Linked DNA regions of Homo sapiens: region 2 is linked to region 1. Evidence: fine-mapped expression QTL. A gene starts in region 1. The other region holds a variant in brackets. All regions are shown on one strand. Distances are from middle to middle.

Evidence for each region. PIP is the estimated chance that this variant, and not a neighbour inherited with it, causes the effect.
Region 2: its variant is fine-mapped to the expression of PKMYT1 in cerebellar hemisphere (GTEx, PIP 0.98).

The regions. Positions count from the first base shown.
Region 1 is chr16:2,975,646-2,983,962 of GRCh38, reverse strand. It overlaps PKMYT1 (protein kinase, membrane associated tyrosine/threonine 1), which reads left to right and starts at 3,517. Exons shown (of 9, transcript NM_004203.5): 1 at 3,517-3,677; 2 at 4,051-4,315; 3 at 6,932-7,299; 4 at 8,151-8,317. The coding sequence starts at 4,306. RefSeq lists silencers at 41-227, 182-241, 482-531, 3,184-3,543, 3,554-3,783 and enhancers at 652-1,153, 2,198-3,074, 3,075-3,950, 3,951-4,827.
Region 2 is chr16:2,999,616-3,007,932 of GRCh38, reverse strand. It overlaps GREP1 (glycine rich extracellular protein 1), which reads right to left. Exons shown (of 29, transcript NM_001396456.1): 25 at 7,990-8,031; 26 at 7,815-7,847; 27 at 7,106-7,219; 28 at 6,599-6,652; 29 at 5,922-6,372. The coding sequence ends at 6,347. Among named protein-coding and RNA genes, the nearest start is that of CLDN9, 9.1 kb to the left of the region's middle. RefSeq lists enhancers at 1-335, 1,671-1,965, 3,771-4,065, 3,212-4,170, 5,917-6,453 and silencers at 3,627-3,716, 3,727-3,826, 3,771-4,065, 3,813-4,106. The variant G/C (reference allele first, on the strand shown) is at 3,923.

The sequences.
Region 1 (8,317 bases):
CCAAAGTGCTAGGATTACAGGCGTGAGCCACCGCGCCCGGCCTCGCCTTTCCTTTTGTGGCCGAAACCGCATGAGTGAGTCTTCCTTGGAGAGTCTGGGCGGAGCCGCGGGTGCTGTGGCGGCGACGGGACACACGGGGGCGCGCGCGGCCCGCGCCTGGTCGCGCGGGTGGGACTCGCGGGAACCGGGTGCCTGGGCGGCGGCTGGGAGGATTCCTCCTGGAAGGAGGTCGGCAAAGCGCTTTGGTCCGGAACCCTGTGGGCCCGTGCCTCGGTCCCTGTGACCCCAAGGTGGTTAGAGGAGTCCGGGCTTCTTTCCTCCTGGGGCCTCTTTTTGGCCCAGACTGCAGCGTTGAAAACTGCAACAGACTGTACAGATGAGGGGGTCTTACTATTTTATTATTATTATTATTATTATTATTATTATTATTATTATTATTAATTTGAGACCGAGTCTCGCTCTGTCGCCCAGGCTGGAGTGCAGTGGCGCCATCTCGGCACACTGCAGCATCCACCTCCTGGGCTCAAGCGATCCTCCCACCTCACCCTCTTGACTAGCTGGGAGCACAGGTACACACCACCATGCCCAGCTAATTTTTGAATGTTTTGTAGAGACAGGGTTTTGCCATATTGCCCAGGCTGGTCTCTAACTTCTGAGCTCAAGTGACCTGCCCGCCTCAGCCTGCCAAATTGCTGGGATTACAGGCGTGACCACCTCGCCCAGCCTGTTATTCTGAAACAATGAGTAAGCCCCTACTGTGTGTTCGGCTCTGTGCTAAGCACTTCACAGGCATTTTCTCATGTGGTGCTCATACTCCCCGAGGAAGGAGGAACTACTATTATTATCACTTTATATTTTTTACAGGGTCTCACTCTGTTGCCCAGGCTCACTGCAGCCTTTTTTTTTTTTTTTTTTTTTGAGACAGAGTCTCGCTCTTGTCACCCAGGTTGGAGTGCAGTGGTGCGATGTGGGCTCACTGCAACCTCTGCCTCCCAGGTTCAAGCAATTCTGCCTCAGCCTCCCGAGTAGCTGGGATTACAAGCGCCTGCCATCACACCCAGCTAATTTTTGTATTTTTAGTAGAGAAGGGGTTTCACCATATTGGCCAGCCTGGTCTCGAACTCCTGAGCTCAAGTGATCCACCTGCCTCAGCCTCCCAAACTGCTGGGGTTACCAGCATGAGCCACTGCACCCGGCCCTCACTGCGGCCTTTAACTCCAGGGATCAAGTGATCCTCCTACTCCAGCCTCCTGAGGAGCTGGGACTACAGGTGTGTACCACTGTGCCTCACTGCTTTATTTCTTCTTTCTTTTCTTTTTTTCTCTCCCTTTCTTTCCTTCCTTCCTTTCCTTTCCTTTCTTTCTTTCTCTTTTTCTTTCCCTTTCTTCCCTTCCTTTTCTTTCTTTTTTCTTTCTTGAGACAGGGCCTTGCTATGTTGCCTAGTCTAGAAAACTATTATTTTTATCCCCATTTTACACACGCAGAAACTGGGGCAGGCAGGATCGCAGCCCTAGTTTCCCTCACACCACGCACTTATCTGCTCCATCTACTTATTTCCATTTACATATATTTATATTACAGCCTTTCCTCACACAGTGAAATTTACATCGGAAGCATGTGTTTCCATGCTTTTTTTTTTTTTTTTTTAATTATCATTGTGAATCAGACTTTAAAAAATGGGCGGTTGGAAGGGGACCTGTTGGGGAGATGGGGCTGGCAGAGGTAGCCCTAGGCAGCTGGGGAGGGGCCTGTGTGTGCCCCAGGCCTCCTGGGGGCCAGTCTGGAGTCATCAACAAGGATCCTGCCTGAGTCACTGGGGCACAGCCGCCAGAGATGCGAAGGACAAGGAAAGGTGCAGGCAGGTGGGCTGCCGCCCCCAGCCAGGATCCCAGCCTCTCCTCCCCCACACTGCTGCTCCATGCACAGAACGTTTACAGAGGGTGCAGGAACTGAATGGGTGGGAAGCTTTGCAGTCCATGACCTGTCAGAGACTTGGGGAGGATGGAGGGTTTGGGGGACTGGTTCTGGAGGCCAGGGCTAGAAGGAGCAGGTAGTCAACAAGTAAACTCACAAACAAAAGATAGAACATCGGACAGAGATCAGGGCAATAGCAAAAATAAGGCGGAAGGAGAGGTGAGAGTGAGAAGGCCAGCGTTTGGGGGAGGGTTGGCCGGAAGCGTACTCCTCCCACCCAGTTAAACAGATAAAGAGCCCCTCGGTGAGGGAAGGAACAATCCCTAGCCCGACTTGCTCCGCGAGGGCCCCTGCTAATCACTTTAGGGGATCATCCCAGCGTCCTCAGCTGTTTTTTTTTTTCCAGGAGAGGAGACTAATCCGAAGCTCAGAAAGGCTCAGTGCATTCCCAAGGTCGTTCAGCCAGGAGAGCGCTGAAGGGATCTGAGCTGAGAGCAAGTCTCAAACTCAGAGAATGGAGGAGCTGCCCCGGAAGTGGCTGCTCGAGGCTGCAGTGAACTATGATCCTGCGGCCAATCGCGGTGGCTCACGCCTGTAATCCCAGCCTTCTGGGAGGCCGAGGCGGGCGGATCGCTTGAGGTCAGAAGTTCGACACTAGCTTGGCCAACATGGTAAAACACCGTCTCTACAAAAAAATGCAAAAATTAGTTGGGTGTGGTGGCGCGCGCCTGTGGTCCCAGCTACTCAGGAGGCTGAGGTGGGAGGAACGCTTGAGCGGGGGAGGCGGAAGTTACAGTGAGTCGAGATCGCCCCACTGCACTCCAGCCTGGACAACAGAATGAGACCCTGTCTAAAAATAAAATACATGAGCCGAGTGCGGTGGCGCGCGCCTGTGATCTCACATACTCGGCAGGCTGAGGTTGGGAGAACCGCCTGAACCTGGGGACTGCACCACTGCATTCCAGCCTTGGTGACAGTGAGACCCTGTCTAAAAAAAAAAAAAAAAGTATCTGAGGCCTGTTGGCAGGGAAGCTGCAGGCAGGCGAGGTCAGGCCAAGCAGAGTCCTGCCTATCTGGAGAGCTTCCTGGAAGAGGCGGCTTTTTCTGGCTCCCGAAGCCGTGCGCTAGGGGTTGGGGGTCGTGCGTCTGGCCTCCCACCGCGACCCTGGTTCAGAACACGGCCGGAGTGAGAAGGGGGGTGCCGGGACCCAGGAGGCCGTAGGGACTTCCTGGTCCTACCCGGAGTAACCCTGGGGCTACGCCTGCTCCGAGCACCGGGATGGCGGTCCCTTTTATGGACCCAAACACTACGCCAGCCCAGCGAGGGCGGTGGGTGTCGGGTGCGAGGCCTGGAGGGCAGTGGGCGTCCCAGGGACTGGGCGGCTGAAGCCCCGCGCAGCGACTCAGAACCAGGCCGCCACCCACGCCCCGGGCCAGCGCGGAGAATCCTGTGCGCCTGCGCAGTGAGCGGCGGGGCGGCTCGGCGGCGCGCACGCAGCACGAGGGGCGGAGCCTCGGAGCCCGGGCACCCCTGACGGGCTGCACTGGGGAGGGGGAGGAGCCTCGAGGCCGGTTTGGAATTTTTGGCGCGAGCAGCTCCGCGCGCGTTCACGGGCCGTTCCCCCTCACGGGAGTCCTCCGCCCGGGCGTCCGGAACAGTCGACGGCAGACTCCGGCCCGCTGAGCCACCCGAGGGGTCCCGTGGCCTCCGCGGACCCGGAATCTGGGCCCTCGCGGACCCGCGCCCCGCCCAGTCGCCCCAGGTGAGCCCAGACCCCGCCGTGAGGGGCCTCGGCGTGGCCACCTCGCCGCTCCCCTCCGCCTCGCCAGGTCTGCGTTACCCCTGCCCCTCAGGCCTCCCCGGCGGCCCGCTCGCGTCCCCTCAGGCCCGCCCCCGCGAGCCCCTGCCTCCCGTCCTCCCCAATTCCTGGTTCCCTTGCCTCGAGCCCCTTCCCAGCGGCGGTCCCGCCCTACTCGCCCCTCCCGGAGACCCCGCCTGCTGTCCATCAACCCCGCGCCGCCGCCCTCCCCGTGACAGTCCTTCCTCCGTGACAGCCCCTGCCCCGGGACAGCCTCTCTTCTTCTGCAACAGCCCCTCTTCCCTCGTGACAGCCCGTCCACTGCTCTGTTCGCCAGGGCTTCCCCACACCCACGGAGTGAAGTCAGCCGCGGCCCTGCCTGGGAGGAACTTACCGTCTACCGGGAAAGGTGGCCAGCAGATGTGTCGGGCCTGGTGAGAGGGTGAGGCGAGACGGCCCGATCGCCCAGGGCCCCGGAAGCTGCGGAGGTCACCCCCGCCTGGCCTTAGCTCAGGGACACCCTGGATTCACGTGGGAGCCCCTGCTCCTGCCTCCCCCGTCCCACCACTGAGGCTGTTGGGCCAGGCCAGTCATGCTAGAACGTAAGTCGTAGGGCAGGGACGGTGGGAGAACTGGGTTAAGATGCACAGGCCCAGGTCCCCGAGTGTGCCAGGGTTGGGCCTGGAGGCTGTGCTTGTGACCAGTGACCTCCAGGATCCCAACACCCTGGCTCCTGACTTGGAGAAACCCTGGGCTGGGACTCTGAGGTAGTTAGAGTCAGAGGAAGAGTCTCCACAAGATGGAGGGCAGCCTGCCAGCCAGGCCCAGGTAGCATCGCTCCCCTCACCCCTGTACTCCCTCAGGTACTGGAGACTGCTCTTTTTAATTTTTTATTTACTATTATGTATATTTTTTTGAGATGGAGTTTTGCTCTTGTCGCCCAGTTGGAGTGCAATGCCGCAATCTCGGCTCACCGCAACTTCCACCTCCTGGGTTCAAGCATTTCTCCTGCCTCAGCCTCTGAGTAGCTGGGACTACAGGCATGCACCAGCACGCCCGGCAAAAATTTGTATCTTTAGTAGAGATGGGGTTTCACCATGTAGGCCAGGCTGGTCTCGAAGTCTTGACCTCAAGTGATCCACCCACCTTGCCTCCCGAAGTGCTGGGATTACAGGCGTGAGCCACCACACCCAGCCGCTCTATTGTTTTTTATAATACTTTGGTGCACCAGCCTCACCAACATGGTGAAACCACATCTCTACTAAAAATATAAAAATTATTCTAGTGTGTTGGCACACGCCTGTAATCCCAGCTACTCAGGAGGCTGAGGCAAGAGAATTACTTGAACCTGGGAGTCGGAGGCTGCAGTGGGCCGAGATCATACCACTGCACTCCAGCCTGGGCAACAGAGTGAGACCCTGTCTCAAAAACAAACAAACAAACAATACCTTGGGGCATAAAGTGTTCCACGGTCCAATCCAATTAAATTTTTTTTTTTTTTTGAGACAGAGTCTCGCTCTGTTGCCCAGGCTGGAGTGCAGTGGCATGATCTTGGCTCACTGTAATCTCTGCCTCCCAGGTTCAAGCAATTCCCCTGCCTCAGCCTCCCGAGTAGCTGGGACTACAGGCATGCACCACCACACCCAGCTAATTTTTGTATTTTTAGTAGAGATGGGGTTTCACCATGTTGGCCAGGCTGGACTCGAACTCCTCACCTCAGGTGATTTACTCACCTCAGCCTCCTAAAATGCTGGGATTACAGGCATGAGCCACTGTGCCTGGCCAGATCCAATTAATTTTGAGCTCCTTTGACAGGGTGGCTTTTGAGGTCAGTGAGGTTTGTTCTGACAGCAGGCAGGCTCTTCCTAGCTAGCTCTTTCTCCACTTCTCTGTGGTAAACTAGCTGGCCTATGGTTCAGCTGGTTGCCCTAATGCGGGTACCAGTCTCTTCTTAATGGCGCACCACCAAAACTTCCACTGATTTTGACAGCCCCTTTAAACTTGAACTTCCCTACGCACTGTTTCAAATCAAGCCAATTTTCAGGGGGTTGGTGGGTGGGGAGAGCTCTATTTATGACCTACGTCTACCCCTAGGCTAAATCTCTGTCTGAGCCATGCTGTGGAACTGGGGGCAGGACAGCGGGGCACCTCTCTGAGTGCTGCTATTGCTTTAGGAGCAGGTCGCTGGGTTGGGCAGGAGCCTCTGGCCTTCTTGGTTGCCCTCTCCCAGTGTGGAGCCTCCTTCCTACAAATGAGCTGGGGCTCCATGTTCCCAGCCTGCCGGGCCTGAGATATAGCCTCTATTCTATGCTTGGGGGCAGGTGGAAGAAAGGAGCCCCTGGCCTGTCTGCCACACTCAGCTGGAATTTAGCCTCTGCCATGTGGAGCTGGGAGGGTTGAGAAGTGCTGAGAACCTGGCCCTCCTGGGCAAACACCCTAACCCTTGACGGGGAGCTGGGGGAGAGGGAGCCCTTCTTCTTGGCCACACCTGCCCCCAGTGCTAGGCGGGGGGAGAGGGGTGCTGGAGGTGGGAGGGCAGGAGTGTCATGGCTCAGGTGCCAACAGGCTTGCCATTATTCCCAGGCCTTGGCAGGTTTTCTTGTGTAAACCTTTGTTTGCTGTGTGCCCTGGGCACCATGCCCAGAGGCTTTCAGTGCTTGCTTTTGAATAATCGTCATCAGTTGTGCTGTTTCACTGGGGCAGGGGTCCACGGAGCTGCACACACTGCCATTCTGGAAGTGGACACCACTAACTGGGTTTTGGCACGACAGTTATGAAAAAGAAAGACACTTGAGGGATTCCGGGTTTTCACTTTGGAATTGGAGATAAGGGATCGTGGGCCCGTGTAGTCTCGGAAGAGGTTGTGTAGTTTAGGATCAAAGAGCTGGCCGTGATGAGGGCAGGGATGCAGGCGCAGCCCGTCTGACTCCAAACTGCCTTGCTCTTAACCCGACTGCAAGACCCTCAAGAACACGGGCCCCATGGTTTTCCTCTTATGTTTCTATCATCTCTAAAATACAACAGCCTGGTGGGCAGGTGAGTATGAATCTGTCCTCTGCCTTTTCTTGGTAGGTGCTTATTGCTCCCATTGCCGTTTAAAGTAGAATAAGTGTGTGGTATAGACATAGCTCTCTTCTGTGGCCTCTTTGGAGCCACAGGGCCAGGTGGTATCAGAGTGGACATGCTGCCCTGTACTCAGCCTCTGTCTCTGCCCCCAGGGCCTCCTGCACTGGCCATGCCCATGCCCACGGAGGGCACCCCGCCACCTCTGAGTGGCACCCCCATCCCAGTCCCAGCCTACTTCCGCCACGCAGAACCTGGATTCTCCCTCAAGAGGCCCAGGGGGCTCAGCCGGAGCCTCCCACCTCCGCCCCCTGCCAAGGGCAGCATTCCCATCAGCCGCCTCTTCCCTCCTCGGACCCCAGGCTGGCACCAGCTGCAGCCCCGGCGGGTGTCATTCCGGGGCGAGGCCTCAGAGACTCTGCAGAGCCCTGGGTATGACCCAAGCCGGCCAGAGTCCTTCTTCCAGCAGAGCTTCCAGAGGCTCAGCCGCCTGGGCCATGGCTCCTACGGAGAGGTCTTCAAGGTGAGTGAGGGGACGGCTTCTAGGCCCATCTGGGGGACCTCCTTTGTGTTTCTGCACCTCCCTTGGCAGGACAGTGTCCTGGGCAGCCTGATCCCCTTCCGTTCCCTACAGCCTGTCCCTGCTGGGCTCACAGGCTCCCTCCACATTTGACTTGGCTGCTCCCATCATCCCCAATGCAGGCCCCTCCAGGGGTTGCTCTGTGCATACTGGCCCCTTGTCCAGAGTCTGGCACGCCCTGCAGCAGCCCCTGTGCCATCTCCTCCGGCCCTGGCGCCAGCTGTGCAGCGTCCTTGGCGAGTCGGCCCAGCCTCTGGCACTGGCCCTGAGTGCAGTGCCTGGCCAGCCCTCCCCAGGCTGGCAGGCTTTGAGCTACCCCCTGCCTGCCATCTTGCTTTTCTTAAACACAGTTTCCAGTCATTTATATTTTCTTTTAGAGAGGAGTTTTCCCTTGTATGAGTCCTGTATGAAGACAATTTTGTTAAAAAGTACAAACAACATTGGCCCCCAGGTCAGCTTTCTCACAGGGGAGCCCACTTTTCACACCACAGCCTGGGCTGCCTGTGTTGCTCTGCAGCTGCTTTTTCCACCTCGTGACACATCCAAGAGGTCCCCTGGGGTCAGTGCAGGTCGGCCCTGGCTCCTCCGTCGCTGGGTCTCCACAGACCCAGCCCGAGGGATGGAGGTTTGTCTGGTTTTGTTATTACCCTGGGCAGGGGTCTGAGACAGATGCCAGCTACACCACCGTGCCCCGTGTGTGAACCCTTAATGGGGTCTGCCAGGTTGTCCCCCTATGTGATTGTGCCACTTGTGGCTCACCCTCACTGTGTGCGTGGGTACCACCTCCCTTCCAGGTGCGCTCCAAGGAGGACGGCCGGCTCTATGCGGTAAAGCGTTCCATGTCACCATTCCGGGGCCCCAAGGACCGGGCCCGCAAGTTGGCCGAGGTGGGCAGCCACGAGAAGGTGGGGCAGCACCCATGCTGCGTGCGGCTGGAGCAGGCCTGGGAGGAGGGCGGCAT
Region 2 (8,317 bases), 24 kb before region 1:
GCAGGACACACCTGACACCAACCCAGACCCTGACTTTGGAGCTAGCCCCCCTAGGTGGGCTAAGAGAGCCTCCTGAACCTCTTTCCCGACAGGGCAGCGGGGCAGGGCCTCTCCTTCTTCTGGGCCTCCCAAGCACCATCCCGTTCCTCCTTGTCCCAAATTCTTCGAGGCTCCCAGTACAGGGAAACCTCTGCAGAAAACTGCATTTGGATCTGATTACGGAAGAGGCCCCCTCCACCAGCTGGCTCACTCTCATTGCCATGTCCCTGGCAAGGGAAGTGCCCTTTGCTCCCCACTTGCAGGGGGCAGCGGGCTGGACTCCCAGAACCTCATGCGAGCCCCACCCCAGGGCTCCCTGGGCAAGTCACAGCTGCCCAAACCTCAGGTGCTCCTGGCTGTAAAGCAGAGAGGAGACAGCTCTGCTTCAACCCTGGCACATCCCTGGACTGGCACCTTGGGGATCGAGGTGGGTATTGACTCAAGACAAGCATATTTTGTCAAAAGCATAATGGAGGTTTCACTTGTACACCTGGGCAGACTCCACTGACTGGGTAACAATTAACTTTATTATCAGTAGTAACTGTCAGTTTCAACCAGCAGCAGTTATCGCTCCCACCCTTTGAGGGTGGGGGCCCCGTGGCTAATGCTGTCTTTAAGAATACACATCTGTGTACTTCCTGTTTCTTAGCTGAGAGAGGAGGCCTCAACAATATAAAGCGCAGGGAGCTGGGGAGCGGCAAGCCAGTGGGAATGGGCACCTGGCCATAAGTCAGAGAAGGGGAAGGAGAGTTACTTTATTCTCTTCTGGTGCCAGTAAGAACTTTATCAAGGTACTAGTGCCATCAGCTCCTGCCCAAGGGCACCCAGGGCCCCAGGTCAGCATGACGGATTTAAGACACATTACGTTCTGGGAAGACGGCTAGGAAGGTAGGTCAGCCCCACAGGGGAGAGGACACTGCATGTCCAGATGGGGGCACGCAAAATGATACCTCCACCCTCTAAGCCCTGGAATCTGTGAATGTGACCTCACTTGATAAAAGGGCCTTTGCACATGTAATTAAACTAAGGATATCAAAATGAGATTATCCTAGGTTTCAGGCGGGTCCTACCTTCAACGACAATCCAACCTCTTACAACATAAAAACAGGGAGATTGGAGACAGACATGGGGAGAAGGCCATGTGAAGACGGAGGCAGGAACTCCTGTGATGCGGCCACAAGCCACAGAGGGCCTGGAGCCACCAGGAGCTGGAAGAGGCAGGAGGGATCCTCCCCTAGCACCTGTGAAGGGAACAGGGTCCTGCCCACACCTTTATTTTTGACTTTTGGCCTCCAGAATTGTAACGAATACATTTCTGTTGTTTGAAGCCATGCAGTGTGTATAAATTTGCTACTGCGGTCAGGCCGGGCGCGGTGGCTCACGCCTGTAATCCCAGCACTTTGGGAGGCCGAGGCGGGAAGATCACGAGGTCAGGAGATCGAGACCATCCTGGCTAACATGGTGAAACCGCATCTCTACCAAAAATAAAAAAAATTAAAAAATAAAATTTTTACTGCAGTCACAAAGAACTAGTACACTGCCCTTCTTGGTGGTGGGTCCCGGGCTCTCCGAGGTCCCCCAGGGTCAAGGTTGGCTTTCTGATACCAGTCCTAGGCTGCTGGAGAAGAGCCCACTGAGAAAGAATTTTCGCCTGATTACCTGAGCTCAGGCCACCTAGGGAACAAAGAGAACTTTATTAAGTTGTAGAGGCTGCACAGAAACTGGCAGGTGGGGTGCAGGCAAAGCTGGAGAGAACAGGAGCTTCCTCTCAGGGCCCAGCCCGGGTGGGGGTGGGGGAAGCTCTCCTGTCCCATGGGGATGACTTCACAGCCCTTGCATGTGACCCTTGGGTCCAGTATCGATCCCCACCACTGCTTCCCTGGTGCGCACAGCCAGCCCGACCCCTGGATCTGTTTCAGTTGAAAATTTGACTTCTGAAGACTTTTCAAAGGCCGGGCGCAGTGGCTTATGCCTGTAATCCCAGCAGTTTGGGAGACGGGCGGATCACCTGAGGTCTGGAGTTTGAGACCAGCCTGACCAAAATGGAGAAACCCCGTCTCTACTAAAAATAGAAAATTAGCTGGGCGTGGTGGCGCATGCCTGTAAACTCAGCTACTCAGGAGGCTGAGGCAGGAGAATCGCTTGAACCCAGGAGGCGGAGGCTGTGGTGAGCCGAGATTATGCCATTGCACTCCAGCCTGGGCAACAAGAACGAAACTCCGTCTCAAAAAAAAAAAAAAAAAAAAAAAGACTTTTGCGGCAGGATCAGAATTTTCAAGAGCCATACACTGAGGATGGCCTTAGCCATGGCATCCAGACCCTTTATTTATAAGAGAAATGAAATATTTGGATATAGTTAAAGCACTTTAAACTTTTTTTTTTTTTTTTGAGACGGAGTTTAGCTCTTGTTGCCTAGGCTGGAGTGCAATGGCACCATCTCGGCTCACCCCAACCTCCGCCTCCCGGGTTCAAGCGATTCTCCTGCCTCAGCCTCCCGAGTAGCTGGGATTACAGGCATGTGCCACCACGCCCGGCTAATTTTGTATTTTTAGTAGAGACAGGGTTTCTCCATGTTGGTCAGGCTGGTCTCAAACTCCTGACCTCAGGTGATCCGCCAGCCTCAGCCTCCCAAAGTGCTGGGATTATAGGCGGGAGCCACCGCGCCCGGCCCAGCACTTTAAACTTTTGTTTTCATACCCTTGATCCCCATTTCCTTGGACACGTGCTGTGGGCCCCGCCCGCTGCCCTGATCACTAGCCAGGTTATCAGCCCAGGGGACGGGTTACATTCTCAAATAACCTAGCAAGAGGCCTGCTGGAGGGCAGCAGGGGAAAATGGAAGACCCGAATCTTTAGACAAGTCTATTTTCAGACTCGCTCCTTTCTCTACCAAACCTGAGCTGCTTCCGATTCTCCTTCTCTCTTCCCCAAACTGGGCTCTAACCCCCGTCCTCTGAATCCATGCCCGGGGAAGGTGGCTACGGGCACTGGCCCTGTCGGGGGCTGCCTACTCACCCGCCGCGGGAGGGGCCAGGTCAGCAGGGCGGCGACAGGAAGAAATGCGGGGACAGGGGCACGGGCGGTGGCAGGGGAAAGGCGGACAGCAGCCATGGGTCGCGGGTCTCGGGGGCCGTCAGCAGGCTGAAGGGAGAGGGTCGCGCGGGCAGCGGCGGAAGCGGATGCGGCGGCGGCTCGGAGACCAGGGGCGGGCGGACGAGCGCGCCCACGGGCCCAGGGGCTGAGGCGACGGCGGACACGGGCAGCGGAAGCAGCGGTAGGAGCGCGGGCGGAGCGCGCGGGCGCGGGCAGGCGCGGCAGGTCCTGCAGTGCGAGCACGGCGGCGGAGAGCGCGGGTGAGCAGGCTTCGGGCGGCAGCTCGGGCAGTGCCAGATGCGCGCCGGGGCCCCAGGGCGCCAGCGGCTCGGGCCGCAGCGGGAGCGCGGGCAGCGGTGGCAGCTCGGCCAGGGCGAGAGCGGAGGGCGTCGGCGGCCCGGGGCTCAGGCCGGGCGGCAGGCCGGGCAACGGCGGGTGCGGCAGGGACGGCGGGGGCAGCGGGGTGGGCGGCAGCGTCGAGCGGGCCCGGCCCAATCGCGAGTGGGCGCGGGCGCGGGCGAGCCGCGGGTGCGAGCTGGAGCGGGGCAGCCGCGCCGCCAGCTTGGCTGCGGCCGCCACCCCGGTTGCGGCCGCCAGCCCAGGGCCCCAGAGCGCGCCGCCAGCCGTGACCTGGTACCTCGGGAGGTGGCCAAGCGCCGCACTCCGAGCGGCCCAGCCAATCGCAGATGCTCGCCGCCGCACCCCAACCAATCACGGGCCAGTGCGCTCGCGGTCTACGGGTCCCACCCGGCAGCTGTCAAGGGCTACCCTTGGCAGCCAATCAGAGATAT[G/C]AGCGCGCTCCGCCAAGTTCTTCTTCCCGCCCTCTCCTGGTCCCAGCCAATCGCTGTGTCCCAGGTGCCGCAGCTGCTCCCCGCCCTCAGCTAGCCTGGCTATCAGGCGCTGCACACGCGCAGTGGGCGCCCCCACCTGGCTTGAGGATCTGCGGATTCGCTGCGACACCGAGGCGCGGCGCCTCACCAATTTTTTTTTTGTTTGTTTTTTAGGTGGCTTTTTTGGGGACTGAGCCCCTCACTCTGGCGCCCAGGCTACATTGCAGTGGCGCGGTCTTGGCTCAGTGAAGCCTCGACCTGCCGGACTAAAGCAGTTCTCCCGCCTCAGCCTCCCCAAGTAGCCGGGACTACAGGTGCACGCCACCACACCCGGCTAATTATTATGGTCTTTAAATTTAAAAAAAAAATTTTTTTTAGACGGAGTCTCGCTCTATCCCCCAGGCTGGAGTGCATTGGCGCAGTCTCAGCTGCAACCTCCGCCTCCTGGTTCAAACGAGTCTCCTGCCTCAGCCTCCTGAGCAGATGGGATTACGGGCGCCCGCCACCATGCCCGGCTAATTTTTGTGTTTTTAGTAGAGACGGGGTTTCGCCATGTTGGCCAGGCTGGTCTCGAACTCATGACCTCATGATGCACCCGCCTCGGCGTGCCAAAGTGCTGGGATTACAGGCGTGAGCCACCGCGCCCGGCCTAATTATTATATTTTGTGTAGAGATGGAGTCTCACCATGTTGCCCAGGCTGGTCTCGAACTCCTGGGCTCAAGCGATCCGCCGGCCTCAGTCTTCCAAAGTGCTGGGATTCCAGGCATGACCCACCGCGCCCGCCCCCCGACGCCACCGATGTGGAGTGTGAGATTGTCCTCTCGTTGCTGTTTACCCATTGCAACTCAGGTATGAGGATCCTGTGTGGATGGGTCAAGGTGCACAGATTTCCATTCAGTTATCTTATAAGAAAGATAAAACGATATCACAATTCAAAAGTAAAGTTTGGTGATAATATACTTAGCATTTGTGTTAAAGTTCCTAAGAACAATTGTAAATGACAGATGGGTGCGAATCTGGTAGCTCAGAACAAAAAGGATAAAATGGTCAATCTATTCAAAATTGGAATATAGAAACTTTTTTTTTTTTTTTTTGAGACAGGATCTTGCTCTTTCGCCCATGCTGGAGTGCAGTAGTGCCATCATGGCTCACTGCAGCCTCGATCTCCTCGGCTCAAGTAATCCTCTCACCTCAGCCTCCCAAGTAGCTGAGACTACAGGCATGCGCCACCCTGCCAGGCTAAGTTTTTTATTTGTGGAGATGGGAGTCGCCGGGTGCGGTGGCTCACGCCTGTAATCACAGCACTTTGGGAGGCCGAGGCGGGCGGATCACGAGGTCAGGAGGAGATCCAGACCATCCTGGCTAACATGGTGAAACCCCGACTCTACTAAAAGTACAAAAACTTAGCTGGGCAGGCGCCTGTAGTCCCAGCTACTTGGGAGGCTGAGGAAGGAGAATGGCATGAACCCGGGAGGGGGAGCTTGCAGTGAGCCGAGATTGCGCCACTGCACTCTAGCCTGGGCGACAGAGCGAGACTCCGTCTCAAAAAAAAAAAAAAGAGAGAGAGAATCAAGAGAGTCAAGTCGATTATGTTTCTAATTGTTGTTTGAGATGTCTAAGGCTATTTCGTTAATCAGGCATTTAAGGCACGCAAAATATTTAGGGAAAAGTCGAGTTGTGAAATTCGTATTTGTTTTTATTTACTTATTTATTTTTTATAGAGATGGGGGTCTCACTATATTGCCCAGGCTGGTCTTTAAATTGTAGGCTCAAGCAATCCTCCTGCCTTGGCCTCCCAAAATACTGGGATTACAGGCGTGACCCACCATGCCTGGCCGAGCTGTGAAATTTATAAACTAATTAAGCATTCATCAAAGATTGTGAAAGTGAGTTTTACATCCAAATTATTAGTCAATACAATATCTGGAAGGCCACTATAAAAGCTTAAGGAAAATGAGATTTTTATCTAACAACTTTAATAAATCGATTATAAATGAAAACACAAAGAATGAAGTGTTCTTTTCCATGCACAAGGCCCCTAACTTGGATGTGGTTCCCCCGCTAGGCGGTCACCAAGTGATGCCCTCCCTGAGGGCAGGCGTTGATCGAGTCTGTTTTCTTCTCATGATTTCTCCTGTTGGGAACATGGTCCCTGGCACATGGCCTCATTGATGTTTGCCAAATGAATGAATGAGGTGCTGGGTGGTGGCTGCAGGCCCATGCCACTCCCACCCTGGTCAGCAAGCCCCTTGCATGGCACGCGGAGGCAAGCAGGGAAGCACGTTTGTGGTTCTAGCATGGAGGAGACCCCCGGCCAGGCAGCACCAGAGGCCAAGCCCAAGGGTCTGTCTTCCTTGCTGGGCAGGCGAGGGGCATTGCAGTGCTCAGCATTTCCCCAGAGGGCAGCGGCCTGGGAAGACATAGAGCTGGGCTAGGGAGGGGCGGGGCCCTGGTGAGGCCTTGCCCCCTCCTCCCCTCCCAGGGACCTGAGCTTCTGGGGTCAGTCACTCAGCAGCCACCTACAGGTGGCAGAACCTGCTATCCTTCCCAAGGGCTGGGTGTCCCCCAGTATGGCTGGAGGGGTGACCACGGGGGGCCTTTGGGCAGGCGGCTCGGCCATTGCGCCTCCCTCTCACCTCCGTAGCCATTCCCCAGCTGGCCATTGCTGCCTCTCTTCACGTCGGGGCCCCCTGTGGCACAGACAGACAGACCAGGAGCACTCGGGTCACCAGAGAGCTTCCGTCCACCCCAGCTTCAACCCAGGCTGTGGGAGACACCCCCTCCCCGGAGGGCCCAGGGCTCAGCTCTGCCTCAGTTTCTCAGAGGACCGGGGGGAGAGGGACAGAGTATGGAGAACTGAGTCCGTGATGGCCCTCGTTCCCAACTCCATCACCTCCCCTTCTTGGTCCAGTGTCTGGGCTGGCTCTCAGGGTCCCGGGCTCTTCTGGCCTCTCCTCCAGCTCCATTCCTTCCTGCTCCTTCCTGCCTATGCCCTCCTGGCCTCTTCTCACTCACTCCATCCCCTCCGCCAAGAGGGCTGTACCTTCTATCTCTGTGGGGCTGTGGGTAGACCTGGGCCCAGGGCCCAGTTCCCTGAAGCCACCTCTAATGGCCCCAACACACTCATCCAGGCATCCCGTTACCTGGCTGGCTCCTGGCCTCAGCATATTCATCTCCAGCCTGATATCCAGGCTTCAAGCCGGCCCCCCAGGCCTGGAGGGTGGGCCAGCGAGAGTTCCACAGCACCCCGGCCTGCCCTGTGGGGAGGAGAGCTGGCAGGGGTACCCTTGCCCACAGGAGCTGGGACCCCTGGCCCCTGTTGGGCTTGGCTCTGCTCCCAGAAGGCTCATTTCTTACCATTTCCTTCAGGGGCTAGAGCTGCTGCTTTGGGGTACACCAGAGCTTCCACCCCATCCCCTCCAAGAGACTCTGGTCATTCCCGCCTAGCCCCTGGGCTGTTGTCTCCCCCACTCCACTGCACTTTGTCCCCTGGGTCTGACTCACTATTCCTAAAACCATTGGCCCCATGGAACCCTGGAGGAGGAAAGAGGGTGTCAGAGGCTGGGCTGGGGCCCTGAGCCCAACTCTCCCACCCCGACCCCTGCTCCCCAGGCACCTGGCTGTGGGTGGGCCTCGGGGAAGACCCTGGCTCCCAGGACACCATTCCCATAACCTAAACCTGCAGGACAGAGATTGGAGAGGAGCTAGGGACAGGCTAGTGGAACAGGGACAGCATCAGGAGGGCCAGGTGACCAGCTCATAGACAGGGGGATGCGGACAGACAGACTGACTCAGGCATGAGGGAGATGCCAGCTTCCGCTCAACATGGGTCGGGGGCCCAGGAGGACTCACCAATTTTCTGTGGCTCGAGGCCACCATTAAAACCTGGGGGAGAGAAAACTGTGACTCAGAGATGGGGGTCAGCGAGAGCCACAGCCCTGGCCTCCCCTCTTCCTGGGATGGCAGAAGGAAGAGGAGGGAAGAGGAAGGGAAGGGAGGGGAGGAACTCCAGGAAGGGCCTCCTCACCTGGTTCTGCTCCCGGTCCATAGCCATTTGGAGGCTGGTGCCCTGTGAGGAGAAAGGAAGTCAGTGCGGGGGACCCAGGTCTCCCCTGACTCCTTGGAGGCCAAAGATCGACCTTAGGGACTCTGAAGGGGAAGCAGAGACTTTTCCTGTCCACAGGGAATGGAACCAGAAGAAATCTGGAGAGCAGCAAGAGACTGGGCGCAGTGGCTCACGCCTGTAATCCCAGCACTTTGGGAGGCTGAGGTGGGCTGATCACTTGAAGCCAGGAGTTTGAGACCAGCCTGTCCAATGTGACAAAACCCCGACTCTACAAAAATACAAAGATTAG